Regions from separate parts of the Homo sapiens genome. Here all the other regions are linked to region 1. Evidence: fine-mapped expression QTL. A gene starts in region 1. Each other region holds a variant in brackets. All regions are shown on one strand. Distances are between the middles of the regions.

Region 1 (4,069 bases):
TCACAGATATTTATTTTGAAACCATGATCGTCAGGCCTCCATGATAAAGCATGTGCCTAAAAGGTGTTCTGGCTTTCACTTTGGAGATTTGGAAACAGTCTCAGGGACCAGTAACTTGCCCAAATTCTTGCAGGTTTCATAGCCATGACAGCTCTGGCAACCCTAAGGGTCTAAGGGATAAGATTTCTAAATCCACTTCATACAACTAACAGTGGTGCTCAACCATGACTCACATTAGAATCACCTGGAAAGCTTTTTTAAAAATACTAGTGCCTGGCCTCTACCCTATAGCAATGAATCCAAATTTTTGGTATTGGGGTCCAGGCATTGATTTTTTTTTTCTTTTTAAATAAAAACACTCAAAAAGCCAAAAATTTCCTCAGGTAATTTTATTACGCAGTGTAGGTTGAGAAACACTGATTATGCCATAGACCTGAGAATATGATTAATTGGGTTGTTGAATCAGGGTGATCCATAGCTAATGGGTTCTCAAACATTCAGTTCATGTGGTATTTCATGACCTGAAAGCAAATGCAGACAAGTTTTTTGTGTCTTATTTGAAATGCTGTTGTCAGACAGTATCATCTTTTCCAGCTATTCTTCTCTTTTCATTTTCAGGTGACTCATGCGGAAGAGTGTGCTTGCTTCATGTTGCAACTTAGTCCTTCACATGGTTGTCCCAATGCCCCATTTACCTTTGTGGCCATTGGCACAGCCTGGAAGTTTAGAACAATGCAAGTCATCTTGACATCTAAAACGTGATTTCTGGTAATGCCTTAGGAAGTAGTTTCAGGTTAATTTGTATTTCCAAACCGCCTCGGACTCCTTCCTGAAACAGATTAAAAACTGCGTATTGGCAAAGAGTGAGGGGAACTAGGTGAGGGGGATTGGGCTAACACTGGCTCCTTGTGATTAGTCCTGATTTAAATGCTGGAAATGACAATGGAGTTTGTTTATGGCTTTTCTCACCCTGAAGATATCTTTACAGGAATATTTATTTGAACACTAACTGGGTAAAGATTTACAGGGGCTCAAACAATTCTTTTTCAAGGAGCTGAGGGCCTAATTTTTATCATACACATCAATACATTTTTTTCCTTACAGGAAATGTGTGGGTGTCTGGGCTTTTAAAAATTGTATATCATACTCTTCTTTCTTGCCTCAATGTTGCTTTGATAAAATGATTTACTTGAATCTTAAACTGATTATTTACCAGCTATAGGACTTGGGAAAAATTGCTTAACTCCTATGAGACTGGGCACAATCATCTCTGAAGCAAAGACAGGGTTATCTGTGGCTTATTGTGGTTGCAGAAATTAAAGAGATAATTTTCAAAAAGCACCTAGTACAAAGTCTGGGTTAGGTAGTTCTCCAATAAACATAATTTATCCTCTCTTCCTTCCTCTTCCGTCAAACAGAATATATTCTCCAGAAGAACCTGATATAAGTGGTGTGTACATAAATGAGAATTTGTCATTTTTTAATTTCCTCGAGTATTCTGTAAGAGTAGACTTTAATAATACAGTTTTATAATACAGTAATACAGTTATAATGTTTGCCATGTGCTTTACTATGAGAGTTGTTGATTGGATGGCTTGTCTTCTTTGGTAGAATTCAGTATCAGTGAGTGGAAAGGTTATTTTTGCATGTGGTTGGTCAGGCAACAGAGAAGTCACTCCATACAAGCAGCTTTCTACTCTGCATACAAGGTAGATCCAGTGGAAGTCACGTTGAGTGATGTGTTTGTGCAAACAGCAGTTAATGACCATGTAGGATATCCCATCATCAGAGCTCTATCCCAGCTGACTCAGAGTAGGATTAATCATGAAAGCCTGGATTTAGATGTGTGTCTGAAGATACATGTGTGCTGGGAAAGAAATTAGGCTGGACTTTTATAAAAATTGTTACAAAGAAGCAACAATAATTAGAATAGAAAAAATGGCCTTCAGCCATTTAGTGTCCTGGTAGACATGAACCAACACAGCCCACTTCAGGCTGGCAGATGTGAGAGAATCTGTGGAAGGGAGGCTTGAACCGTCTTGAAAATATTTCCCAAAGCCTCTGCTGCTGGGATACTGGTCAGAAGTGCCCCAAGTCTGTTTATCTGGAGACATGGAACGCTTTATTCAAGGACCTGTGGAGAGAAGGCAGACAAGACTGTAGAGTCTGCACTCTCATCCTCTTGAGGGCACACCTTATTTACAAAAGGAGATTTAGATTACTTGATCCCATAAATCTTGGCATAGAGAAACTCAAAGCAAATATTTATTCTACAAGGATGGGTTAGCAGTGTTAAGGTACTGAAATTTACCTTGTACAACTTTAAAGAAGTTTATTGAGTTGTTAATGGAATAGCATTACCTATGATTAACTAATGTTGAGAAACTGTTGGCAGGTTCCTGGTAAATATTTAACAACACTTATGAATCAGACAACAGAAATGGAATAAAATTCCAAAAAAGCTGTAGTTTTTTCATTTGGCTTGAAGTCAGTATAGAGAAGTTATTTAAAATAAGATTTTCGTCCCACGGAATTGTCCCCTTTGTTATTGTATATCCTTCAGGTTTATGGGACAGCACTAGAGGAAAGTGACAGCCTCAGAGGACCTTCAGGTAAGCTGGCTCCATTTTGGTGACATACATATAGAGGCATAAATACCTGGTTTTTACTGAGAATACCCTGGATAATTATTAAATTGGATTTGGACTAAGGAAGAAAAGGTCTTCTTGCTTTTCATTTTCTCTCTCCACATGAATGTATGTATGTGTGTGTATGTATGTATGTTTTTATAAAAATATTTGAAACTTTGAGCTCCTGAAATCCTAGACTTGGCTTCCTTGAACATGATTGTTTTCTGTTGAAAATTCTTTTCATGCCAATTCTATCTGACTAGTTTCAACTCTTCGATAACCAGGAGTCTGTAATAGATGATGTCATAGGGGTCTAGAATATTGGCATCTGACTTCAAACAAGAGATCAAAACTAATTTCGAGACAAGTTCCAAGTGTGTTCGCTAACTGCTATAAAGAGCACTAAACATTCATGATTCATTTAACTGTGTCTACACCACATAGAATGAGTGGAGACTTGCTACTTTTCTAGTCATTTATTATCCACCTATGCTGACAGATCCCATTAATCAGACTAGTTGGTTAATTGACAGATCTCCATTTTGCTTTTTGTTTATAGATAGTTCTGGTGTATAGATGCCAAACGTGGTATTCTATCATTGTGCACGATTCTTAAGATGACTTTTGGCCAGTCTAAACACTGCCTAGGAGTTGTTTATCATGCTTGATTTACTACTCCTCCTGAAGCATGTATACTATTAATTTCTGCTTGAGAATTTCCAACAAAGCAAACATTTACACAAAGAGGGTGATTCCCTTCTGGCTGTAGGGATGGATCAAGACAGTGGTACCAAAATAGATATGACTGTGTCCAAGTTCCTGAGACTTTAATCACATTTAATCACTGTACAAGTTGTGCTGGGAGGAAGGAAGATGTGGTGTCTCTCTGTGGCTGCACAATATATCTTGTCAACTCTTCAGCGAAGCTACGTACATGGCTGCAATAAAAGGGCTACCGTGTGTGTGTGTGTGTGTGTGTGTGTGTGTGTGTGTGTGTGTTTGTATTTTTCCAACTTCATTTACCAGTTTTTAGTAGAAAGCCGTATTTTGTGTATTTAAAAACACTGAGAATTGGGCAAGGCAAAAAAAAAAAAAAAGATGTTAGGATAAAGGAAAATTTCCCACAGGAATTACCAAGAATTTATCCCACAGAGGAAGTCCTTCTCAATTGCTTCTTGCTCATGGAAATATTTTCACCTGCCTTGCCAAGGCCTTGATACTGATATCTGGAAGGTATTAAGCAATCCAGAAAGTTTATTCATCAACTTTGATTCATCTTAATAAGAGAGCTTAGAAATCAAAGTTATTTCCCTCCTTCCTGCAAAAAGTTCAGGATTTGTAATGCTAAATGGCTTGCTCCCTACTTAGAGCAAATACTTTAGTCAAATTTGATATATTGACTCATAACCCACACATTAGAGCCAAACATGTCCTGTTAT
Region 2 (4,069 bases), 110 kb after region 1:
TTTGGGTTCTTGTTCATGAAGTCTTTGCCTAAGACAATGTCTAGAAGGGTTTTTTCCATGTTATCTTCTAGAATCTTTATGGTTTCAGGTCTAAGGTGAGAGATGAGGATCCAGTTTCATTTTTCCACCTTTGGCTTGCCAATTAACTCAGCACCATTTGTTGAATACAGTATCCCTTCTCCACTTTGTTTTTGTGTTGCTTTGTCAAAGATCAGTTGGCTGTAAGTATTTGGCTTTATTTCTGGGTTCTCTATTCTGTTCCATTGATCTATGTGCCTATTTTTTACGAGTACCATGTTGTTTTGGTGACTATAGCCTTATAGTATAGTTTGAAGTCAGGTAATGTGCTACCTTCAGATTTGCTCTTTTTGCTTAGTCTTTCTTTGGCTATATGGGCTCTTTTTTGGTTCCACATGAATTTTAGCTTTTTTTTCTAGTTCTGTGAAGAATGATGGTGGTTTTTTGATGGGAATTGCATTAAATTTGTAGATTGCTTTTGGAAGTATGGTCACTTTCACAATATTGATTCTACCCATCCATGAGCATGGGATGTGTTTCCACTTGTTTGTGTCATCTGTGATTTCTTTCAGCAGTGTTTTGTAGTTTTCCTTATAGAGGTCCTTCATCTCCTTGCTTAGGTGTATTCTTAAGTATTTTATTTGTTTTGCAGCTATTATAAAAGGAGTTGAGTTCTTGATCTGATTCTCAGCTTGGTCATTGTTGGTATATAGCATTGCTACTGATTGTGTACATTGATTTTGTATCTGGAAACTTTCCTAAATTCATTTATCAGTTCTGGGAGCTTTTTGGAGGGGTCTTTAGGGTTTTCTACATATATGGTCGTATCATCAGCAAACAGTGCTAGTTTGACTTCCTCTTTACTAATTTGGATACCCTTTATGCCCAGACAATCTAAGGTCACATACCTCAAGGAATTAGAGAAACAAGAACAAACCCAAACTCAGCAGAAGAAATAACAAAGAAAGATCAGAACAGAACTAAATGAATGAAAAAGCTTGTTCTTTGAAGATAAACAAAATTGATAGGCCATTAGTGAGATTAACCAAGAAAAGAACGAAGTTCCAAATAAGCTCAATTAGAAATGGGAGACATTATCACTGATACCAAGAAATGCAAAAGATCATTCAAGGCTACTGTGAACACCTAGAGGAGTTGGTTAAATTCCTAGAAATATACAACCCTCCTAGATTAAACCAGAAAGAAATAGAAACTCTGAACAGACCAATAACAAGCAGCAAGATTGAAATGGTAATTTAAAAATTGCCAACCAAAAAAGACAGATTTACAGCTAAATTCTACCAGACATTCAAAGAAGAATTGGTACCAATTTCCAAAAGATAAAGAGGGAATCCTCCCTAAGTCATTCTATGAAGCCAGTTTTACCCTAATACCAAAACCAGGAAAGGACATAAAAAATGAAAACTACAGACCAATATCCCTGATGAACACAGAGGCAAACATTCTCAACAAAATACTATTTTTAATAGACTGGTAAATTGAGTAAATGTTGAGTTCTGTAAGCTATTCTAGCAAATTACTGAAACTGAGATGAGAGTTATGGAAACTCCCAGTGTATAGCTGGTCAGTCAGAAGTACAGGAGGCTGGGACTTGCTATTGGCATGTGAAGTGTGGACAATCTTGTGGGATCTAATTTCTGATAGATAGTGTTAGAATTTAATTGCATTTTAGGACACCAAGTTGGTGTCTGCTAGGAACTGGAAATAAACCCTACACATTTGGTATCAGAAGTGAAGTGTTATTTACAGGAAAGACCATTTAAATAGATAGATAGATAGATGTCTTTTGGGGTAATCCAAAACTGGTTATTGGAATGTCCTCCCTGGGGGAGCTAGGTGGGCCTGCAAGGAAAGCCTGCTCACCGCATAATTCCTTGAGCTGGAAGAAGCACTCTACTTGCCCCCAGGGC[G/A]GTCCTTTTGGTTGATGTATCAACAAGCAGACTCCCACCTAGCTATCTTCTGTGGTGGTCTCAGGATACTCATGCATCCTTGTGAGACGGAAGTGGGAATCCAAAATGTGTCACTGCACCAACCTAGTTTCCTGTCTTTCCCATGCTCTAATGCGTATAGGTCACCAAGTCTCCTGCAATACAATTATAGAGCATATTCCATGCAATATGTCTAAATATGTGAATTATCAACCGTTAGCACTTAATATGGTATAAAAATAGAGGAAATGAATAGATATTGGTTGAGAGAACAGAGGTTTAGTTATTCAACAACTCTTTATAGACAAAGATGGTTCTCAAATCAGAGCCACAGTGCTCCCATCTTGTTCTATTTTCATTGCAGAACAACATCTGTTCATTTACATGGTGTATTATATATATACTGAGACTGTAATTAAGGCACCCACAGCCTTCTCCTCTTTTGGCCAACCAACATCATTTCCATGGTCCCTTCCTCTTAAGCCTGGGTTTCCAACTCTTTAATCATCACTGCTCTCTTCTAGATCCAAATGTCCCACTTACTTTTAAACTGTGGTGACCTAAACGGAAAGCTATCATAATGATGCTGTAAAAGTTTGGCAAATTTCAGCAGAAGCCAACATCTGTTTGGTCCTTTCTCATTATCTTCTTGCTGACTTTTCATTAAAGAGTTTTGGAAAAGCTGTAAAACGTATTTTTGAAATTAATTCAACAATATCCATTCTGGCCCAAGTCTCTGCATGTATACAATTTTTATGCACAAATTGATTCATAAATGAAGGGTTTTTAAGCTTACACATATAAGCCTTTATACAATATTATAAAATATTTTGCATGTTCTTTTTTTATTTGTAGTTTTGACTGTATTAATTTAACAGTGGCATGGCTTTTGAATAAATTATTTTAACTTAATGTTTTTATTTAAACCTTTCCCTTGGTATATACACATTGAATAAGAAAAAGAACAGTGTTACATGCACTTACCATGTGCCAGAAAAGGGTTTTACATGTACTAACTTAATTTTCATAACAACTCAGTGAGCCAAGTACTATTGTCATCTCTATTTTTCAGATGATGCAGTTTAGGGAGAGAGAGGCTAAAGATTTGCCGAAGATAAGCCCAACAAGTGAGGGTCAGAGGTGGAACCTAAGAGCAGAGACTGTAGGGCGAGGCTTCTAGTGTCCATCATGATATGCTGTTGTATGTACATGAACACCTGGGTGACTGGCCCTTTGGTAGAACCTTTTTATTGGTGATCATGAATATACACAAGCAGAAGTTTTCTTTGTGTTTAAAGATGATTTTTCTAATATAGTAATCATACTTGAGTACTGATGCTGGTTTAACTGAAGAAATGACTCATGACTATTTCTTTATGGTTGTACTTTCTAAGCTCCCTTAAAGGTTTCATTTATTTTTTTGTTCTGAGAATATAAATCCTACAGTTGGTAAATTTAACTTTTTTTGTTCAAATATTGAGCTCAGCTTGCCATTGTGAATAGCAAATGTAGGAGCCTCCACGAGCCCTATAAAATTAGCCCAGGCAGCTGTGATGTACATTTTAGGCTACCTACAAATACAGAAGAATGCTTTTTGCCCTGAGTATAATTCATTTCAGAGTGAGGTTTCCAGAAGAGATGGTACTATTGTCACTACCCAGGTCTTCCTGTAGGGCTTTCGGAAACTGTATTGCCCTTTCAAAGAACTCTTGATACCATTCTGAGAGGACTGTCTACACTATGAAATTAGTGGTGTGGTGTATCTATACCTCAATAAACTTGCTCCAGCTACACCTATTTGTTCCTTCAAGTTTTCTTTAAACTTTAGGGAAAATAATTACCTTGATAAATAAAAATCATATCCCAGCTTACTTTATTTGCCTTAAAAAATTGAACATAATATTAAAAATTTCTCTAAAAAACCAAGACTAGAGGTGCTTTCTCTACCTATTTAAGAAGGTTATTTGAGAAAACCCACAATCCTGTCCCCAAATGTGCCTTTAAATTTACTATCTGTATAGAGTAGAAGAAAGCAATGCTTCTAGTCATAGATAAGCATTTCAAAGAAATTTTAACACGTACTCTTTACTCCCTAAATGTTC
Region 3 (4,069 bases), 160 kb after region 1:
CACTTTTTTTGAAACAGGGTCTCACTGTGCCACCCAGGCTAGAGTGCAATGGCACGATCAAAGCTCACTGTAGCCGTTATTTCCCAGGCTCAAGAGATTTCCCACCTCAGCGCTCCCAAGTAGCTGGGACCAAAGGCGTGCGCCACCACATTTGAGTTTTTTTTTTTTTTTTTTTTTTTTAAGTGGAGATGAAGTCTCGCTATGTTGCCCAGACTGGTCTCAAATTCCTGAGTTGAAGTGATCTTCTTGCCTCAGTCTCCCAAAGTGTTGGGATTACAGGCATGAGCCACCACACTTGGCCTGAAAATATTTTGAAAACTTTAAAAATAAAAAAAAAGAAGATAGCTTGGGGCCACCCTGAATATCGTTATGAGACTCACCTCTGTATGTTTTATAGTAAAATATTATTCATTTTACTCATAAATCATGTTCAAGTGATATTTGAGTGGAAATGTTTTTCTTTCAGCAAATTCAGAGGTAATATCAAGGAGCATGATCTGGAGAAGGCAGCGTGGGTCAAATACTAAAATCTGGACTTACTGTCTCAGCAGTTGGCAAGCAACCAAGGTGAAGCTAGTGCTGTGGAAAGTCCCCAAAGGACCAGAGCAGATATACTCAGTGTCCTTTACCTCTACAGCTCCGCATTTTCAAACTCCCCCACTTGTCCTTCAGTCCATCCTCTAAATACTGTTCTTTCTCAGCTTGTGTTCTCACTCATCATCTCTTCTCATGCCACCTGACCTCCTTATGTGAGGTTCTTGGCATCAGTCATCAGATTTACCCTGACAACTCCCACGGATACATGATTAGCTCTGATATCCACCGGGGTTTAAAGAACTGTTGCAAATTCTTCCTGATTACCTCCTCTTAAAGGCACCTCAAATTCAATGTGACTGAAACGGAGCTCTTCCCCTGTATATCAGCTGTCAGTTCTCATTGCTTCAGCACCTAGTAAATTCTCTCACCAGCTCACTCCTTTCAGACTACTCCATAAAATCAAGAAAAGCCTAAAATGGCCAAAAACTAACCTATCCTGCATAATCATCGCTTGTAATTTTGCCCACAACTTCAGTAGTTTGACGTAAAAGATGTTCCATTCTTTACCACTGAGTAAAGAAGTTAAAAATGTTCCGTAATTTCGAATTCCTCTTTGTTCTAAGACTTTACTCTCACCTCCGGGTTCACAGCTAAGCTCCCCCATGACTGATACCGCTGAAAGTCTTGTTTCAACAAAACATTCATGTATATGTAAAAAATAAATCATCTGACAAATTGAGAATTGCTCAATTTGAAAAACAGATTCAGTGATAAAGACAGAGGTCAATATTAAACCTATGAGTAAGGTAAAGAAATGGGCGGGAAGAAAAATAACCCCAAATCGTTGACTTCCCAGAACCCAGAGGCTAATAGGACTCTCACTTCCTGCTTGAGGTGAAAGCAAGCAAAGGCACCTCTGTTCCTATCTTGTCTTGGTCAAAAGATAAATATGAATTATTATTCTTTTCTTTTTTCATCAGTAAAGAACTTTCCATCACCCTTTTGGCAACTTTCTGCACCAGCCACTTCCCCCTCATAACTCCAGTCAACCGTTCTCACATCTGAGAAAAATAGGTGGAGGATATTTCCAGGAGCCTCTGTTGCTGAGGTTGCCCACAGTCAGGTAAAAGTG[G/T]GAGAAATTTCTGAACCACCAAAAACCTGTTCCTGAGAGACAGAAGTAGAAAAAACTTACACATATTTTTAAAAAAGAGAAGTTGAGGTGTAGGGGGATGGTGACTCAATAAAACTTCCTCCCATGATAAAATAAAGTAAAATAAAATAAAGTGAAAGTGTCTGCCACTACATTCTCAGAAGCCAAGCGTAGTCTTTTTATAGCCACCTCAGGGAGTATCTTCAGGATCTCCAAGCATTTAGATATTCCCAACTTCCACATATTTAGCACCTGGGGTGACAGGAAGGGTGTGTTCAACTCCATTAGCAGTATCCTTTGGAAAGGAAGCTGGGTGCACTCTTTCAGAACTGCTTAACATTTCCCTTTTAAAAAGATAGATCGGTAGAATTTAGTGAATTTTCCATATAGCTTAATTTCAATTCCATGTAAGAGCAAAATAACAAAATGGTCATATTTCTTTTATATTTGCTTTCTTCTTTTCTGAGCAGTTGGTGAGAGAGAGGTTGGTTTCTGGGAAGGTGATAATTTGGAGTCTTATTTTTTTTCTGCCCATTTCATATTATAGATTTAATATTGGCTCTGGATCATTGAATGTATTCTTCAAACTGAATGATGCTAGTGAGATGACTTCATTTATACATACATTGATACTTTATTTAAAGGCTCATGTTTTGTTAAGTTCTGTCTTAGGAGAAAATGACCCATGCTTTAAATAGTAGTACGTATGCTTCAGGAAAAAACATATGGTCATCACAATCTCACCATCTACTCTACCTGCTGAGATGGATGTTGGTTTAGGCATCCAGGTTCAAGCTCTGATTTCTATGTTTCTCAAATTTTGTTGTGTAGATGTTACATAATAGATGAAAGGGAGAAAAAGACTTCAAATTAGTCCACTGTGACTTGATTGCTTTGGACTGGAAAGGGCAGAGGGTCAGTAAATAAACAGAAGAGCTGCTTCTGTGCAAAGAGAAAGAGGACAGAAGCCAATGTGGGCTGCACTAAGAGTGAGCTTGAGTCAAACTGAGCAAAGGGAAGGCAACTCCTTTTCTGGTGAGACAATTATAGGAGTCTCAGGGAAAGAAGATTTTAGGAAGTATTTCTCTGCATCAGAAGTAGAATGTTCCTCTAGAATTTTTCAGGACACCTCATTAGAGATTTAAATTGCTTTCAGTTGCTGTTTGTGGGTATTGTACTGTCTCTTCGATTGCTGTAGGATACTGAGGTGGGCTCTAAAGGAGTAGCAAAAGCTCTGCCTGTTTATGGCTCAGTCCCATCGCAGTGGGATTACATTCTCCTTAAGAACTCAAGACACTTGAAAGTCACGTCAACATTTTAGGCCCTGCCTGTACTGAGTTAAATAATTTATTTCAACATAATTTGTTACTTTCGTTGTTATTATACTCGTATTTATTATTAAGTGATTATAATGTAGAAGGAATTGTGCTAAGTGTTATGCATGAGGTAATTTGATTAATCCTTCTACAATCTGAGGCTGGTGCTATTTTTATCCCCATTTAAAGACTGAGGACACTGAGACACAGATTTGACAGTCTGGCCAGTCCTACAGCAAATACGTGCCTATGCCAGGGTTCAAATGGAAGATGCCTGACCTCTAAGTCTAAGATTTTAGGCTTTGACTCAAAGGATCTGCTCAGCTTATGTGCAGAACTCCTAAAAATGAAACCATAGAGACAATTTTGAATTTAGAGTTATAAAACTCACACTTAGGTTTTTAAAAGCACAGTCATGAATAATATATCCTAAAATCCTGTCTTTAAATGGACTGGACTAGTTTTTCACAGGGAAAGTGATATTACTGTCCTCTGGGGGAAAAGTGATACTTTGATCTCATCACTAGAACTTCCTCCTAAAAGGATATGTCCAGAAAGGAATTAGAAGTTGAAAATGTTTCCTTTTACCTTAAGACTATTCCATACACCCTTCTAATTAAATAGGATGATTTTATGTTAAAAGGTTTGCTTATTCTCATCTCTTCCCAAATCTAAGAGATCCAGAAGACAATCTGGAGTCTGACACCGAGCCTCCCTGTCATTCATCATCTTTGAAAGTCACGTGTTGTGAAATGTGTATCAGTTACCCTCAAGATACAAGGAAATGGTTCAAAGAGACAGAAGGAGTTCTATTTTTCAGTTTCTCTTTTTGCAGCTTCAAAATTTGGCTTTTGGATTCCTGCAGGTAGATTTTGAAAACAATATGTTCTTCCAGGGGGCTAAGAAAATGAACGAATATGTGGGGAAAAAAAAGGGTGTTTCCTTTTTTTTTTAGATTTCAAAGTAACTAGTTTTCTTTCCATTCGTGAATGCATACATATATACATACACACATGTGCACACACACACACTCTCCAACTTCTACTCTGCCCTCCCCACAATGATA
Region 4 (4,069 bases), 61 kb after region 1:
TATACATGTCATATGAGCCGGTTTTCAACTAAACCATCCCAAACATGTCCTCCAAATTAGGAGGAAAACTAAGAAAATTAACATTGTATTTCTTTGCAATGGGGTAATGATAATCAAATAGCCACACATGTAATTTTATTATATTGATTATAAGGTAATTAACCAGTTCCACAGGTTCTAACAGATCCAGTGACCTTTTTCCTAACACAGTTTGGCAATCCCCTTCTCCTTGGTGCCTCTTTGACAGGCATTGCCATCCACATGTCTTTTCTATTATAACCCCCAGCCCTGACTCCCCCTCCAAACTCTTCATCTTCTGGTTTTCAAGTTACTCTACTTCCCATCACTGTGTGCTGTGTCCAGTCCAGTATGTTTTTCTCTTTGTACAGAAACAGCATGATTTGTTCCAGCTCCTTATCCCAATGTGTAGTTTCATTCTTACATTGGGATTTGATGCAAAAGATATTCACCCAGGTAAGGGAAGGGTCTTGAAGTTCAGACTCATTTAAGAAAATTGGCACACTTGCTGAATACCTTGACAGCTTTCTAAAGCAAGAATCATATCAAAAAGCAACAGTTTAAATTTTAGTTTTCACCAGTCTAGCTCCAGTTTCTTTTGCTAGGCTTCTGATTTGACAGCTAAGGCCATAGATGTTCTAGGCAGCCAAATTTGTCAAAATTTTAACAATCTGACCTCTAACAGAAAAGCTGATCTGTTACAGATTGAAAGAGAATACAATTTGAGATCCATGTGAATTCCTTTTTTTCCCCCCAAACTATTTACTCATTATACGTTTAAAGGTCACCAGTATACAGCGGTGTTTCAACTATCTGGGAATTTATTCACTGCTGGTAACCTAAATGCGGCCGCTCTGTTTTTCATTACTGGCTGGTATTTTTAAGTCTGAGCTCTGACCTTCTAACTTAGAACAAAATAACTTGGTTTCAACATTCTCAAACATGGCAAAGAGGTTTTTTATTCCCAAGATGACCACAGGAACCGATGTCATGGTATCTCCTTCAGTAACCAACATTATTCTAAACAAGAGACTCGTATTTTTGTCACATTGGGCTAAAGATGAAGCCACCTTTGCAAAATTATAACTCAGGAAATGATGACAGTGAAAGAAATCAGACCTAACTGCCTCCATCTTTCTTCTAACCTTTAAGCTGTCCTTGTTCATTCCTGAGCATAGGCTGAACTAACTTTGGGAAGGAAGTCAGTTCATGGTTTGACTCTGAAACACAATCGATAATAGTCCTTTCCTGAAAAGCCACCCCCCCCACCCTTCTTGCCTGGGGATCAGTCTATCTTTGCAGGACTAACAAATTAGCTACAAGATTAGAAATTACAGTTTAGGGGTCATGCAGCCTCTGGCTGCAAAAGTCTGAACCTCTCCAAATTGCTCCTGGGGATAACATCACTATTATAAAACTTAAGATCAGTGCTTGAGATATTTCGCAGACCCTACACTGGATGGATCAACTGACACCACCCAGACCGGTAATCTGGCTCAACCAGTTCTGCCATCCCACCCAGGAACAGAAAACAGCAAGAAAACCTCACATAGACCCCCTATGATTCCATCTCCAACCTGACCAATCAGCACTCCTCACTTCCCAAG[C/G]CCCTACCCACAAAATTATCTTTAACTACAGGAGACAGGAGTAATAATAAAACTCTGGTCTCCCGCACAGCTGGCACCGCGTGAGTTACTCTTTCTCCACTGCAATTCCACTGTCTTGATAAATCAGGTCTGTCTAGGCAGCGGGCTAGGTGAACCCACTGGGAAGTTACACTGATAGGTGAAAGTTTCAGTTGAAACATTGCCAAGTGTCTGTTGGAGCAGGATAATATTGTCTCTTTCAATAACTTGTTTTTATTCTCTCTTTAGAAACAGTTCTTTGGATGGAAGAATAAAGTTATCAATAGTTTTAGCTGCTTGGTGGGATCACATGTGATTTCCATTTGTTTGATGAGGTTTTTCCATGTTTTAAAACTTGTCACTGTAAAAATGTGGGGCTTTTTGTAATTAAAAAGAAACCTACCAGATATTACAATTATAATTAACGTTGTCGTTAGGCTTTTTTTTTTTCAAATGAGTGGTTTTTTATCTGTCATTCTGGGCAACGGTTTTGAGGAGGAAATTTGCCAAGACTGTAGGGCTTCTCACACTTTAATATGCATAGTAACCACCTGGGATGTCATTAAAATGCAGTTTCTGATCCAGCAAGTTTGGGGTGGGGCCTGAAATCCTGAATTCATCTTATGAACTCCTTGGCAATGCTACTGCTGCTGCTCTGATAACCACACTTTGAATAATACCGCTCTGACCCTTGGTTTTTTTAGCTGGCACCAAAATCACCTGGAGGGCTTGTTGAAATGCAGTTTGCTACTCTTCCACCTGCCCCACCCCATGACTGATTGAGTATATCTGGGGTTGGGCTTGATAATTTGCATTTCTAAACAGGTTTCCACGTGACATTGTTGCTGCTTCAGGAACCTCATTGTGGCTGCTGATCTAGAGCCCTGTTAATCAAAGCCTTGTTTCTGGACCACACCAGCATCACTTGGGAGCTTGTTAGAAATATAGAATCTTAGACCCTACTCAGACCTACAAGGGTAGAATTTGAGAAGCACTACTTAGTCTCTTTGTGCCGCAGAATCAACAACTCAGCTTTAGCTTGTTAGAATCAACTGTGGAACATTTAAAAATCCTGATGCCCAGGCTGAACCTGGAACAGCTTCATTAGAATCTCTGGGGCTAGGGCCAAGGCATCATTAGTTTCTAAAGCTCCCCAAGGGATTCCAGTGTACAGGCATGTTTGAGAACCACACTGTAGATGGAACTGAAAAATCCAGAGAGAGTAATCTTGTTTCCCAACAGAAGGAGACTTGGAGGACTAATTTTCCCTGTTGCCATCCTATTAGACAGTGTGTCATCAGCCACTGGACCAACAGGAAACACTTGGGGCCCAAGCATTAAATTGCTTTGATCACTGGATTTTTAGCAGCCTGCATACACATATCGGCTTTGTTGTTTGGCCTTACTTTGTTCTAGCTTCGTTACATACCAACTGGAGCTAACCTCTCCTGTACTCTGTCATCTCTGGGCTAAGACCTTAGAAATATAACCCATGGGTCATTAGCTTATTTCCCCACCTCACTTTCATTCAAAAGGTATATTCTCTATAAGATTTTAATGGGAACAGAAAGTTCTCCTGCATGGATAGGTCAGGATATAGATTAAGCTAGAGAGAGAAATAGTACATAATTTTACAGATATGAGATGATTTTTGCAATGTATTAAATAGAACAAAATACTGTCCTTGAGCTCATATTGGTCATTTTCCCTAAAAGCACAGTTAGGTTTTGTGTGGGCATGTGAGCTGGAATATTTGCCATTATAAGCCTGTCCTAATATTCTCCAGTTTTAAAACACTAGGCAAGCCAAGTGTTTGTGGTTGATGGTTGATTTTGGAAAAAGTCATTTATTACTCACCTATGAAGAAGTGTTACATTGTTATTTCCAAGGGTTATAAAGGCTACATTTAATTCTGGATAATGTTGAAAGGATGAGCTACCTTTCTACATACAAACCAAAGGAATTCCTGCGTGGATAAGAGCTGTGATCTATTTTGTTTTGGCAAGAAAAGCATAGTTTATGAAGAGAATTGAATTTATTCCAAATACCCTCCTCAGAGACGAGAAATATGTTTGAAATGTTGCTTCCTTTGTACCTCTGTCAACTTTTTAATTTATTTAAATTTTTTTGAATCACCTACTACTACCTGTCAGGCTAATGATTCCTGTAAGCTGATACCCATTGTCTGAATTCATAAGTTCCTTTCACTCTTCCTACATTTTCTTCCCTAGTAAGGTGGCACCTGTTGACCTTGCTGCCTGCCTTATTCCATAGAGGAGACTACTCCCAGCACCTTCTCAGGCGTCTCTTTCAGGCTGTGTGTTGTCCCTGTCAAGAAGCTCTCTATCTCTATCCTTATGCCATCTCCCCTGAGGACAGGAAGCACAACTACATGCAGAGTTTCAGATATGCTTCAGTTTGCCTTC
Region 5 (4,069 bases), 86 kb after region 1:
ATCACTTGTATGCACAAAACCTTAAGGAGTCCACGTTTTGGCTGTTAGATTTTTTTTCCACCTGGATTCCAACTAGGAATTCACTTCAGGATAATCAGAAAGTGGAGTTAGCTGCTCAAAGAGCACCAACCGGAAGGAGAGAGCAGAGGGGCTGAGAGCACCGATGAGAGAGGAGGTCGGCCCCCTGCAGGATGTCTCAGGCATTTCTAAGCAGTGAGACAACTTTGGAGCAATACCTAATATTTTAACATTTGAGCCTTGCATCTTGGATTAGGAGGAAATCCAGGAGAAAGCCTCCGCAGGTGATTGGTGTGTGTGCATTGGGGTGAGCGTCAGGCTGGCTCTAGGTCCCTGTTGCTGCTCGCATAAGAGCTGGGCACCTCTGTCTAGGTGTAGGTCAGCCTCGCCCTTCTCTACCTTCTCCTCCGACTGCTGCAGCTGATCCTTCAGATTCACCGACCCCTGGGGCTCTTCTCTCTTCGTGGGGAATGAAGAGAAACTCTATTCACTTCTCATGACCAGCGCGCTCCCAGGAGAAATCCCACAGTAGGACTGGACCCTTAACTGCAGTCCTTTCCCTGTCAGGGTAGGCAAGAATGTTGGATGGGGAAGGTTAGAAGGACTGTTACGGGGTGTGGGTGGGGCTCCCACTGTGCCTGGACCCACTGTTCGCTCCAATTTACAAGTCTACTCCGAAAGTCTTCATCTTCTGCATCTTTATGGCCAGATATTTTTGTTTCATGTTGATTTTTGTTTGTTGTTTCCTTGAGGCTCTCTGTTGTCTGTTTGCATCCTGTCTGCTAGACAGGCCCACAGATGTCAGACCTGTTAATAATGACCTCCTAATCCAATTCATTTACTGTGTTACCAATAACAGATTTAGAAACATTTTTGTATATAACAAGGACCCATATTCAGAATGTGAACATTGAATCCCAATTTATCCCCAACTGTGACTGAAGCTGCACCAAACACACAAAGACAAATTGTGAACTTGGATGACACAAGGAAGGGACTCCAGGCTAGACTGGAACCAAGGCCCTGGTTATAGTCATCCCAGATTCTTTAGAGCAAATTCTAAACTATATCCCACAAACCCATTGTAAGTTGTATTTTCTTATCTACACCTAAATAATTGTTTAAATCAAATAGGCAGTAAACTTTGTGTAACCTGCTTTGCCATTATCAATCCTTTAGTGTCTTCACAAAGTTGAATTAAACGACCCATCTAGGTGTAGTTTTTTTCAGCAAAGAATCTCTTGCTCAGACTGAGCAAAATCACACCAGTGTTGCTTTAAGATGGCTTCCTTTGCCTGGTTGGCTTTATCTGATACCAGAATAGGATGAAGATACAAGTATTGTTGAAAATAACATGATGTGTTAAAATTTACAGATGGTATAATGTGTACCAATTAGCATTAAGAGGTCATTAATGGACATTAGAATGTTGTAAGAGAACGTGCCAAACTTTGCAAGTTGACATCATTGGGAGAAAAAAGCATTTGGGGCCATCATCAGAACGAAGCTCTTTTTAGCCTGCAGGACAATTCTAATGACTTAAAGAAACATGATAAGAGATTGGGGGCTCTCTGCTAGAGGTTTAATACCTCATTAGATCTGTTTTCACATTCCTATTTTATTTTCCTAGGATTCTGTAATCTTATATATTTTGTTGTACTTTAATTTTTAATACTGCTATTAGTAGCCACAAACATAAGATAAAACAAAAAATATTTTCTTCCTCTCTGGGTGACTTATACTTGAGATTACCCTGACACATGCAAAAGGGAAAGATAGAGGTAAGGATTGCTAAAGGACATAGTTAATTAAAACCGATAAAAATATAGGACCAATGAACGTGAGTCAAATCGGATGTCCTGAAGATAAATATAACTTCGAGCATGCGTTAGACAATGTACATGCTTGCACAACTTCACTGTCCCTGATGCCCAGCAATTCCAGGCTGGATCCCCAACTCCAGGATGACTTTACACGATACAGAATATAAATATCTCCTTGCTGTGTTTTGTAACAATAGTAAAAGGCTTTTGCATTTGTGACTTCTAAGTATATCTAAGAATCAATGTAGGAGGCTTTGTGTGCTGGATATTAGCTGTATCATCTTTGATGCAACATTTAAATTTCAACTACTTCCATTTCCTCTTAAGGTGAAAAAATTGTGCTGGATAGGCTCTAATGTTCATCCAAGCGCTACCATGATTCATATCAGAAGAAAGAAGTACACTTCTTTCTTTCCTAATAAAATTAATAGCACTTATATAATTTTAGTGTTTGCTAATGGATTAACACTAATACAAGTCTGCATAGAATATAAACAATTCAATGGAAATGCCAAA[C/G]CATTTAAAGATTTAAATATTCTATGGTCTATTGCACTGTATTATAAAGGCAATTATACTTTCACTTTTTTTCTGGGCCATTGAATTCAACCTGTGAGTATATTTTTGGTTAGAAAATTTGTTTTAAAATGAGGCTGGCAGGAGTTCAAGACCAGCCTAGCCAGCATGGTAAAACCCCATCTCTACTAAAAGTACAAAAATTAGCCTGGCGTGGTGGCACACAGCTGTGGTCCCAGCTACTCAGGTGGCAAGGCACAAGAATCACTTGAACCTGGGAGGCAAAGGTTGCAGTGTCTCAGGATCACGCTACTGTACTCCAGCCTGGGTGACAGTGCAAGTCTTAAAAACAAAAACAAAACAACAACCAAAAAAACCCAACGACAACAGAAAAAACCATGACTGGGCACAGTGGTTCACACTTGTAATCCTGGCACTTCAGAAGCTGAAGCAGGAGGATTGCTTGAGCTCAGGAGTTTGAGACCTGCCTGAGCAACAGAGTGAGACCTAATTTCTACTGAAAATAAAAAATTAGCTGGATGTGGTGGCACCTGTAGTCCCAGCTACTGGGGAGGCTGAGGCAGGAGGAGATCGAGCCCAGGTGATTGAGGCTGCAGTGAGCTATGATAGCACCACTGCACTCCAGCTGGGGCAACAGAGTGAGACCCTGTCTCCAGATAAATAGACACCTTTTTTCTTTACTTACTGGATTTCTGTGCCTTTGAGTCATGTAATATATGATTACTCAAGTGACAAAGGGCATGGTAAGGTAGATTTCTATCATAAAAATATACCCAGTTAAATTCTAGTTGACACATTATTAAAGATTCAGAAAATATATAATTCTTAAAATGAAACTTATGTTGAGATAAATGTAGATTCCCATGCACTTATAAGAAATAATACAGAAAAATCCTGTGTACCCTTAACTAGTTTTCTTCAGTGGTAATATCTTGCAAAACTACTAAGTACAATATCACAACCAGGATAATGACATTCAAAAACACAAGATACAGAACACTTCCATCATCACAATGATGCCTCTGTTGCCCTGTTACAGCCATACACATTTCCTCCCATCACTACATCCTTCCACACCTTCCTTAATGCCTAGTGACCAGTATTCTCTATTTCTGTGATTGTGTCATTTCAAGAATGTTATATAAATGACATACAGTGTGTAATCTTTGGGGATTTTTCTTCCTTCACTCAGTATAGTTCTCTGGAGATTTTCTCAGGTTGTTTTATTTAGCAATTGTTTGTTTTTTATTGACAAGTAGTATTCCAAGGTATAGATGTACCATGGTTTATTCACCCATTAAGAAACACATGGTTTTTTTTCTGTATGTGGCTATTATGAATGAAACTGCTATAAACATTCATGTACATGTTTCTTTGTGAATATTTTAATTTTTCTGGGACAAATGCCCAGGAGTGCAGTTGTATGGTGTTTGCATGCTTAGCTTTTTAAGAAACTGCAAAACAGTTTTCCACAGTGTCCAGGCTATTTTATCTTACCACCAGAAACATATGAGTGATCCAATTTTTCCACATTCTCACCAGCATTTGGTGTAGTCAACTATTTTTTATTTTAGCCATTCTGAGAGCTTTGTAATTATACTGTGGTATTAATTTGGATTTCCCTAACGGTTAATGATGTTGAGCATCTTTCCAGATGCTTATTTGTCATCTGTACACCATCTGCAGCAAAATTA
Region 6 (4,069 bases), 96 kb after region 1:
ATTATTTAATAAATACATTTATTTATTGAATTTTCATCCTATACTATGTAATATTCATAACTATATAAAATATACAAATACGGAGTTCCCATTCTATGACTGCTAAATTAAGCACATCTAGATCAGCCTTTTGTCCATTTTTCATGTTTCCTTCCTTCTCTTAGGAAGAGTTGTGATTTCTGAAATGGTGGGAAAATTTTAATACCTACATTTCACCTCTACTTTTTCAGGGAGAGGTTCGTGAAGAAGTGATTGGGAAAGAGAGCAAGTCTTGGTTGGACAGTGTGGTAAGTCAGCAAGGGTGAAAAGAGAGGGGGTCCCTGTCAACTATATATATAGTTCTTCCAGGGAAAGAAACATAGCCTCAAATTTGCTTTTCATCCTGTTCTGACATTGCAAGGAAAAAATAGTGAAACTCCTTGGACCACTTTTATAACTTGCAGTGTTCTCAATAACTTGCAGTGTTCTCATTGAGCTACATTTTTTTATTTGCTTGCTTCAAGGACTTAGAAGTCTGTAAAGTGCAAATCTACAAATAAAAGCTTAAAATCATAGAGTTAATCACAACAATAGGTGAGAAAGATATAGCACGCAGAATGCCAAACTATTAGCTGATTAACTGAAAATCTGTATGTATTTTTCAGCGGTTAGTGGAGAGATCAATAGAACACATTTAATTAGCCATGTGGTTTGTTTTACTGGTACTGGAGCTACATGTCTCTCCCACTCTGCCAGGCTTTTAGGACTTCACAAGCTTAATATATACATACACACATACATATTTTGTAAGTTTTATTTTATACACACACACACACACACACACACACACACACACACACATGCTTATGTATTTTGATTATCCAAAATGAGACTTAATATCCAAATCACGTTTAGTTACGTTGCTAAAAAAGTAAGAAAAACTAGCAGTCTAATTTCCATTCTTTAACGAGCAGGAAGATTGGGAACTTTTGGTTTCAAGTGCATAAAATGCACTGTTTTAATTCCTTCATATATTATGAAAGAATGTTTATATTTTATAAAAGATTAAAGCATGTTATGCATCTTAGAAAAAAGTGTCAAGAAAATATAGTTTTCATGACTTAGTACTTTACTGGATTTTTTTTTAAACTATCCATTTACTTTGGGAGAAATTTTATGTTAACAACTATTTTCTAGTCATAGCACAGATCTAGTAAGGTTAAAATATAATTTTAATTAACATAAGTAGGGTTCATAAATTTTCACTCAGGAAAAACAAGCTACTTGGGAAACAGATAACATTCTTAGATCTGAACACTTACCACATAAAATCCACATTGAAAAATAGCTAATATATATATTTTATTAAAGATGAAGTTATAATATATAAATGTAAAAAACAGCATGGCAGTAGAGCTGATGATTTTAAGAATGGTGGCAAGCTCAAGCTCAGTAGTCAAGTTCTAATACAGTTGATATTTAAAGTTCTAAGATCTGTGATATGTATATCTATATATAGAGATATCCTTTTCCTCTGCCAAACAGGAAGCTATAACCACAAGCTGTTGAATGCAAGTTACCTATTGAAAACTTACTACAACAGCGGTTCCCAACATTTTTGGCACCAGGGACCGGTTTCATGGCAGATAATTTTTCCAAGGACCAGGGTGGATGGGGGATGGCATTAGATTCTCATAAGGAGTGCGCAACCTAGATAACTTGAATGCAGAGATCACAATAGGGTTCATGCTTTTATGAGAATCTAATGCTGCCACTGATCTGACAATAGGCGGAGCTTGGGCAGTAATGCTGGCTTGCCTGCCACTTACCTTCTGCTATGTGACCCTGCTCCTAACAGGCCACGGACAGGTACTGGTCTAGGGCTTGAGAACCCCTGCCTTGTAATAAATAATTTATTTTTCTATTCTCCAAAAGATTCAATAGAAATGTGAGGAGGAAAACTGCAATTATTTCTGAACCTTCCCATCAGCCTTGTCTCTGATAGAATTGGCCTGTTGTGGACGGGCTTTGTGTAGATTAGAGAAAGAAGAAGATGCTCTTTTGGTGTAATTGTTCAGGTGAGTCCTTCATGTCAATTATTTCATTCTTGTTCTTGTTACGTTATTTGTATTAGTCTGTTTTCATGCTGCTGATAAAGACATACCTGAGACTGGGCAATTTACAAAAGAAAGAGATTTCTTGGACTTACAGTTCCACATGGCCGGGGAGGCCTCACGATCATGGCAGAAGGCAAGGAGGAGCAAGTCACATCTTATGTGGATGGCAGCAGGCAAAGAGAGAGCGAGCTTGTGCAAGGAGACTCCCATTTTTAAAACCATCAGATCTCGTGAGACTTATTCACTATCAGGAGAACAGCAAGGTAAAGACCCGCCCCCATGATTCAATTATCTCCCACTGGGTCACTCCCATAACACGTGGGAATTATGGGAGATACAAGATGAGATTTGGATGAGGACACACAGCAAAACGATATCATTATCCTTTTTATGG[A/G]TAAGTTACTAATCATAATATATAGTCATTTTTTCTGGAGGTTACTGTGAAATGACCTTCCCTCAGGCAAGAAAACCTAAATATCACAACCCTCAGATTTCATGAGTCCCTTTTATGTAGGAAAATAACTGATACTTTCCCTATCAAATCAATAATGTTCAGCCAAGGCATTTATTTTTTATTTTTATTTTTCAGGATGAAGGTAAAATCTTACAATTCAAAGTAACAATGTGGTTCATTTGACGAAATAATTACTGTGGACTTTAGGACCATTTATTCAAATTGCTGTCTTTGATTAACTCAAGAACTCTTGGTGCCTTTTTTCTTCTAACTTTCTTCAACAACTGTAATTAATCACAGAATTTGTCATCAATCTTTCCACCAAGGCCATGAATACTCTTTGAATGAATGACGATTCTTTCTTTGTGTTAAGTTTCTGTGCCCCAAGGCTATTAAAATTTCATAGTTTCTCCACATTCTTCAAAGCTTTCAACTTTTGTCTAAAAACAACATGACAGAACAAGATCTATTATCTGGGTTTATGAATTAATCTGCATTCAAATGCCTGGTGATTATAGCACTTAAACCTGTTTATCAAAGCACAGGGCTTTTGAAGAAAGTATTTCTGAAAGTTGTGCCTATAAAAATGGTAGAAAAGACTCCAAGACTCCGGTATGATCAAAGCATTTGGATCAGGCAGCCATTCAACCACGTGGACTATTGGGACAAGGATTAGGCCCCCACAGAGAAGCTAAGTTTATAAAATGATTCAGAGGAGCCAAAAGATCAGAAAATAGTAGGATTAGTTGTCTGTTTTATTGTTCTGGGATTCTGTTTCTACATTATGAAAGATCAAAGGGGTTTTCCACCTCTTCCCATGTTGATGTCTAGAACCTCCTTTCCAACTAGTGTGGTAAGGCTTATCAGTATATGATGAAGATTTGGGATTTTGCATCTGGCTTTTAAACTTCTTTGTGTAAACTGGACCTTTATCCCTTCACTTCATCCTCTTGATATGGAACATCCCCTCCGATCTTAATCTCTCCGTCTTTGCATGGCAACAAATCAGAATTGTTGCTCTTCTTTTCCCCTAATTCTCTGACATTTCATAATTCCTTTCTTCTGTGCTCTACCTACTGCCCTGCTCCCATAGTTCTAAATGACCTGTAGAAGGCCTACATCACCCATGCCTATCCTAGTATAGGATCAGTTGGCAGAGGGACTCCCTGCTTTCTCAAAGACTTCTCAACATAGAGAAATGCACAATAGAAGAGAAGGGGAAATATGGTTAAACAAAGTAAGGATTTAGTTTTTGGAGAACGTTCAAAAGAAAGTTGTGAAACCTATGGGAAAGGTTTAGAGGAAATAGTCTCACTAAGAGCTAATGGGGGCTAAAGATTGTTGTAGAGTACATGTCAAATTACAATGCCTGGAAGCAAAGCAACAGTCTGGTCCCCAAAATAATATGAGGAAAAATACATGGTCAAATTGTTATAAATTCCATGTTTTCATGGTAAAAATGTTGTAGTCAATAGGAAAACAATAGGTAAAACTAGATTCAAACTTCATACACGGAGAG
Region 7 (4,069 bases), 120 kb before region 1:
TAAGAGCCTAATTTGAACTTCCATCCTCATTTGGTTCATTGTGAAAAACTGCTGCTCATAACAGCTTGACAAGTGAACAATGATGCATACATCTGAGCAAAGTATGCTGATGTGTGAGAAGTAGCAGCAGCTATCAGCTTCCTATCAGCTGACTAGTGAAGGTCATAGTGGGACTAATATCCGATGCTAAAGGAATATTCTTTGAGTCTGAGTTGCCTGAATGTCCCCTGTTTTCTTTCTTGCTTTTTCTTTTTAACCTTTTAAAGAGATGGGGCCTCAGTCTGTTGCCCAGGCTGGAAAGCAGTGGTGTAATCATAGCTCACTGTAGCCTTGAACCCCTGGGCTCAAAGGATCCTCCCGCCTCATCCTCCCAACAAAGTGGTAGTACAGGCAAGTGCCCATTCCTTCTTTTCTGATCTCTCCTATTTCTTGAACACAGTGATGTCCTAGTGTTTAGTTACACTACCCCAATACAGCAATCAGTGCTGGTTCACTTACCCAAGATTTATTTTTCTTTTCTTGCATGCTGGCAGTACCCGTTTTGTGCCAATGTCCACCTCTTCTCCACATGAGTCAGATCTGATTTGTCAAAGCCAATTATGATCCTTCCGTTCTCTCAACAGTGACTTGTGGAGGATTGGGCAGGTGACCCAGTTCTGGTCAATAAATTGTGAAGGCACATCTGTTGGTATGTTTCCGTGAAAGCTTTTTCTCATTTTTAAATAAGAGATGCACAAGGGGAAAATGACCCATTCTTTTGGACTTTGGTGTGTCCGGATGTGGTGCTTGGAGCTGAGACAGCTTTCTTGGCATGCAAAGGCATCTTAGGCAGTCCACTGCAGACAGCAAAGTTGAGAGAGTGGAGGGAACCTGGGCCCTGATAGGGTTGCTGAACCATTGAATTAACTGGAGCTGCTTGTATTGGAACTTTTGTTATAAGAGTTAATAAATCTCCTTCAGCCAAGAACTTATTAAATATTAAGTAATTATTATATCTGTTTCTTTCCCTTTATTTTGAAAATGAAAAGGGAATGGTATGATGACATCTCTAAATTTCTTCCAGCCCTAACGATTGGTAATTCTTTGCTTGAAGTGGTTCTGTGGAGTTTCAAGATGCGATGCTTTAGCAGACATGGAATCTGGAGGGGGTGTGCAAACATTGCCTGAGTTAGGGTCGTTTGTGTGAGGTCCAGGAGGTAGAAGCAAGGTAAGGCGGTGCAGTTGAAGCATGAATTCCTAGGGACAGCCGAAGTGCTATGTCCTAGAGCACAGCAAAATCAGAAATCCATAGGAATAGCCAGACATTGAAGATAGTAGCTAGGAATCAGATATAAAACAAATTAGAAAAATTGTGATGAGATTTGCTTGCCAGCAATCAGAGCTCATGGCATGTGTTTAGCCTAGGGCCCTCTCAAGGTACCAAGCATGGATGAAGGGCCAGCAATCTCCTTGGGGACATTACCAGCATCTGGAATCCTTTGGCTACCCAGGTTTACTGAATTTCCTCCCTGGTCATTCATCCCGTGAGCTTCTATGCTTGGCCTGCTGCGTTTCACTGTCTCTGTCAACCTCAGGCAGCTGCTTTTCTTTCCTTTCCAGTTGTCCCTTTACTGAATATTTTCCAAATCTACGTTTCAGTTCTTGGTCTCGAGTGCATAGTAGTGCAATTCTTCAATTTTTTGATGTCCCGAACCTTGGAAAACAGATTTAGGTCAGCCACAAAATACAATAAAATGATGTTTACATTGGTTTCTCACATTTTTTAATCAACATTGCCACCTAGTGGTAAAATAATCCTTAAAACTGTGCACAATTATTTTCATTTGGGTTTGGATATTTGATTCAATGTCAAGGATCTTCAAATGGTAAAATTTTGAGCAAGAAGAGACCACAATGATTATTCATTTAAATGTATTGTTTTACACCTAAAGAAATTGAGGCTTAGGGAAAGTCATATGGTAACCAGTGTCTTTTAGGCTCATTAATTATTGCGCTAATACGGTAGGGTCCTCATTCACAGACTATCACTATTTTCCCCCCAGAAATTCTTAATTATTTCCTCTTGAGGTTTTGGTTGATCACTCAGTTTTTCTCCCTTAAGTTTTAAGATGTTCTTACTCAATTTAGCTATTTCCTGGTGGTAAGTAAAAAACAAAACGAAACAAAAACAAACAACAAAAATCAGTTTCAAATGAAGCAAGGTTGTGTATTACATTCTCTCTTTTTGACACATTTGTTTTGTCTTTTTCTCCCAAGTCTTTCTCAAGATGTGTCAATCCATGAGCATGTCTTCCTTTCTTGTGTACATTTAAATACAGGAAAAATATTCTAATACATCCTGTGTTCCATCCAGTCCAGCAGTATTTACACAGTTTTGGGCAGGTCTAGGGTAGAACCAGAGATTCTGAATTCACACCAAGCTTCCCAAAGATGACAAAACTCCTGTTTTGGGCTCACACTTTAAATTGTAAGGCTTTATAGAACAATGACTACATCCTTGAGAACTCAAAAT[C/A]TTTCTTCAGAATGGATGAGTAAACCGTGTGTTCTGTTTGGGCAAATGAGGAGCACAAGGGGAAATTCCTTTGCCTTAAGCAACGTCTCCGCTGAAGTGGCTAATTCCCTTTTTGGCTGCCATGGGGGTCATGTGCCCTGTGAAACTGCTGCTGCTTGCACTGCTTAACGAGACAAGGTCAGGGAATTTCCCTGCACTCTGTGATGACCATTGACCCTCTCCAGGGGTCCGTGATAACCGGGTCTGGAGAATGCCCTCCCAGGACATTCCAGGAGTGATCCTAGGCTAGGCAGTTGTATTAAAGTTCTAAATTTGGTTGCACATTGGGATCACCTGGAAAGCTTAAAAACATACTAATGTCTGGGTCCTGTCCCTGGATACCAGGGTTTTCAAAGCTCCCCAGGTAATTCCAATGAGTAGCAAGCCTGAGAACCACTGGAAACCTAAAGGCACGTAATGGGCCAAAGGACACCAGCTTGTCCCTCCCCTCCTCTCCTTTCTCCTTGTCACCAGTTTATTCTGAAACAAAGACTTCAGGATGCTGCTGGAAAGGGAATTCAGCTCCTAGCAGCTCTGGCTTTATTTACCCTCTCAGGCCCCTCCTCCCTCCTGCGCCCCAACTGGATGTGCATACTTTTTGAGGCAAGTCCAGTCCCTTCCCAAAGTTCCTAGGGTGGCCTTCATAATGCATTTTATTATGTCACACCCACCTGCTCTGCTAGGCCAGCCGAGGTCATGTGATAAGGCTGCTGCATCCCAAGGAAAGGGTTTCGGCTTTTACAAGGACAAGTGCTGGATCAGCCTGATCTCCTGGGAGTTATGAATCAGATGGTCTGAATGTCCTTGCGAGACTTGTGGAAAGAGAAATGTTATCCAGGTTTTTCCTTCAGAACTTTTCATAGGCGATCCTGGGAGCTCTGACCTAGAACTGAAATGACTTTTGATTTTGAAAATAATTAGAATTAATTTTGTAAGGCTGCTTCTCTCTCTCTCTCTACATATATATATGCTTCTAAATATATATATTTGTAAAATACAGTAATCTATGGGCTAGAAACTGTGATAAGAAGCTATAATAGAAATTTACAGTTAAAGAAATGATGGATAATGTGGGATTGTGGTTAAAGATCAGAAGAAAAATGCTTTGGTTCTCCAATCTTGACTTCTTGCATTAGGTATTTTGCTGGGGGAAGAGAGGGAGGGAGACAGAGAGAGAGAGAAAACTATATATATATATATGTGTTTAACAGGACATCTTTCTCTTGACTCTTCTGTGGTTTTGGCCCTGTTGTTAATCAAACCTTTTCCTTGAAACTGTTTTCTCGGCTTTCATGGTATCGCTACCTCCTGGGTTTTCTTTAACTGCCCCAGATGCTTTTCAGACTCTTATTCTTCTCCATTAAATGTAGAAGATCTCAGGAATTCATCCTTGGCTTCTCTTTTCCACTCCCCTGGGGAGGATATCACCCACAGCCCCCTCATCCCGGCTATCCTCATCACTGGGCTGATGCATGCGGCACTGATGGATGTAGCCCCGCTTTCCTTCCGAGCATCAGA

Alleles and levels. Alleles are on the strand shown, and positions count from the first base shown. SD is a standard deviation of normalised expression in the study named. Not every link is listed here.
For the expression in tibial nerve of the gene that starts at base 2,455 in region 1, G is the high allele of the variant in region 2 and A is the other (small effect, 0.28 SD a copy in GTEx).
In carriers of allele G in region 4, the expression in unexposed skin of the gene that starts at base 2,455 in region 1 tends to be higher than with C alone (moderate effect, 0.70 SD a copy in GTEx).

The links. PIP is the estimated chance that this variant, and not a neighbour inherited with it, causes the effect.
Region 2: its variant is fine-mapped to the expression of LINC02889 in tibial nerve (GTEx, PIP above 0.99).
Region 3: its variant is fine-mapped to the expression of LINC02889 in blood mononuclear cells (TOPMed, PIP above 0.99).
Region 4: its variant is fine-mapped to the expression of LINC02889 in unexposed skin (GTEx, PIP above 0.99). The same link has a PIP of 0.9 or more in sun-exposed skin.
Region 5: its variant is fine-mapped to the expression of LINC02889 in tibial nerve (GTEx, PIP 0.98).
Region 6: its variant is fine-mapped to the expression of LINC02889 in sun-exposed skin (GTEx, PIP above 0.99). The same link has a PIP of 0.9 or more in lung, pancreas and visceral fat.
Region 7: its variant is fine-mapped to the expression of LINC02889 in fibroblasts (GTEx, PIP 0.97).

The regions. Positions count from the first base shown.
Region 1 is chr7:17,557,295-17,561,363 of GRCh38, reverse strand. It overlaps LINC02889 (long intergenic non-protein coding RNA 2889), which reads left to right and starts at 2,455. Exons shown (of 4, transcript NR_110013.1): 1 at 2,455-2,612.
Region 2 is chr7:17,451,217-17,455,285 of GRCh38, reverse strand. All of the region lies in intron 2 of LINC02888 (long intergenic non-protein coding RNA 2888), which reads right to left. All of the region lies in intron 4 of LOC105375172 (a long non-coding RNA gene), which reads left to right. Among named protein-coding and RNA genes, the nearest start is that of LINC02888, 78 kb to the right of the region's middle. The variant G/A (reference allele first, on the strand shown) is at 1,950.
Region 3 is chr7:17,399,705-17,403,773 of GRCh38, reverse strand. All of the region lies in intron 1 of LINC02888 (long intergenic non-protein coding RNA 2888), which reads right to left. Among named protein-coding and RNA genes, the nearest start is that of LINC02888, 27 kb to the right of the region's middle. The variant G/T (reference allele first, on the strand shown) is at 1,670.
Region 4 is chr7:17,496,129-17,500,197 of GRCh38, reverse strand. All of the region lies in intron 1 of LINC02889 (long intergenic non-protein coding RNA 2889), which reads left to right. Among named protein-coding and RNA genes, the nearest start is that of LINC02889, 61 kb to the left of the region's middle. The variant C/G (reference allele first, on the strand shown) is at 1,626.
Region 5 is chr7:17,471,241-17,475,309 of GRCh38, reverse strand. All of the region lies in intron 2 of LINC02889 (long intergenic non-protein coding RNA 2889), which reads left to right. Among named protein-coding and RNA genes, the nearest start is that of LINC02889, 86 kb to the left of the region's middle. The variant C/G (reference allele first, on the strand shown) is at 2,358.
Region 6 is chr7:17,461,388-17,465,456 of GRCh38, reverse strand. The region is part of intron 2 of LINC02888 (long intergenic non-protein coding RNA 2888); the gene reads right to left. It overlaps LINC02889 (long intergenic non-protein coding RNA 2889), which reads left to right. Exons shown (of 4, transcript NR_110013.1): 3 at 231-287; 4 at 1,915-2,012. It overlaps LOC105375172 (a long non-coding RNA gene), which reads left to right and starts at 2,319. Exons shown (of 6, transcript XR_001745108.1): 1 at 2,319-2,359. The variant A/G (reference allele first, on the strand shown) is at 2,491.
Region 7 is chr7:17,678,776-17,682,844 of GRCh38, reverse strand. No RefSeq gene overlaps it. Among named protein-coding and RNA genes, the nearest start is that of LINC02889, 120 kb to the right of the region's middle. The variant C/A (reference allele first, on the strand shown) is at 2,513.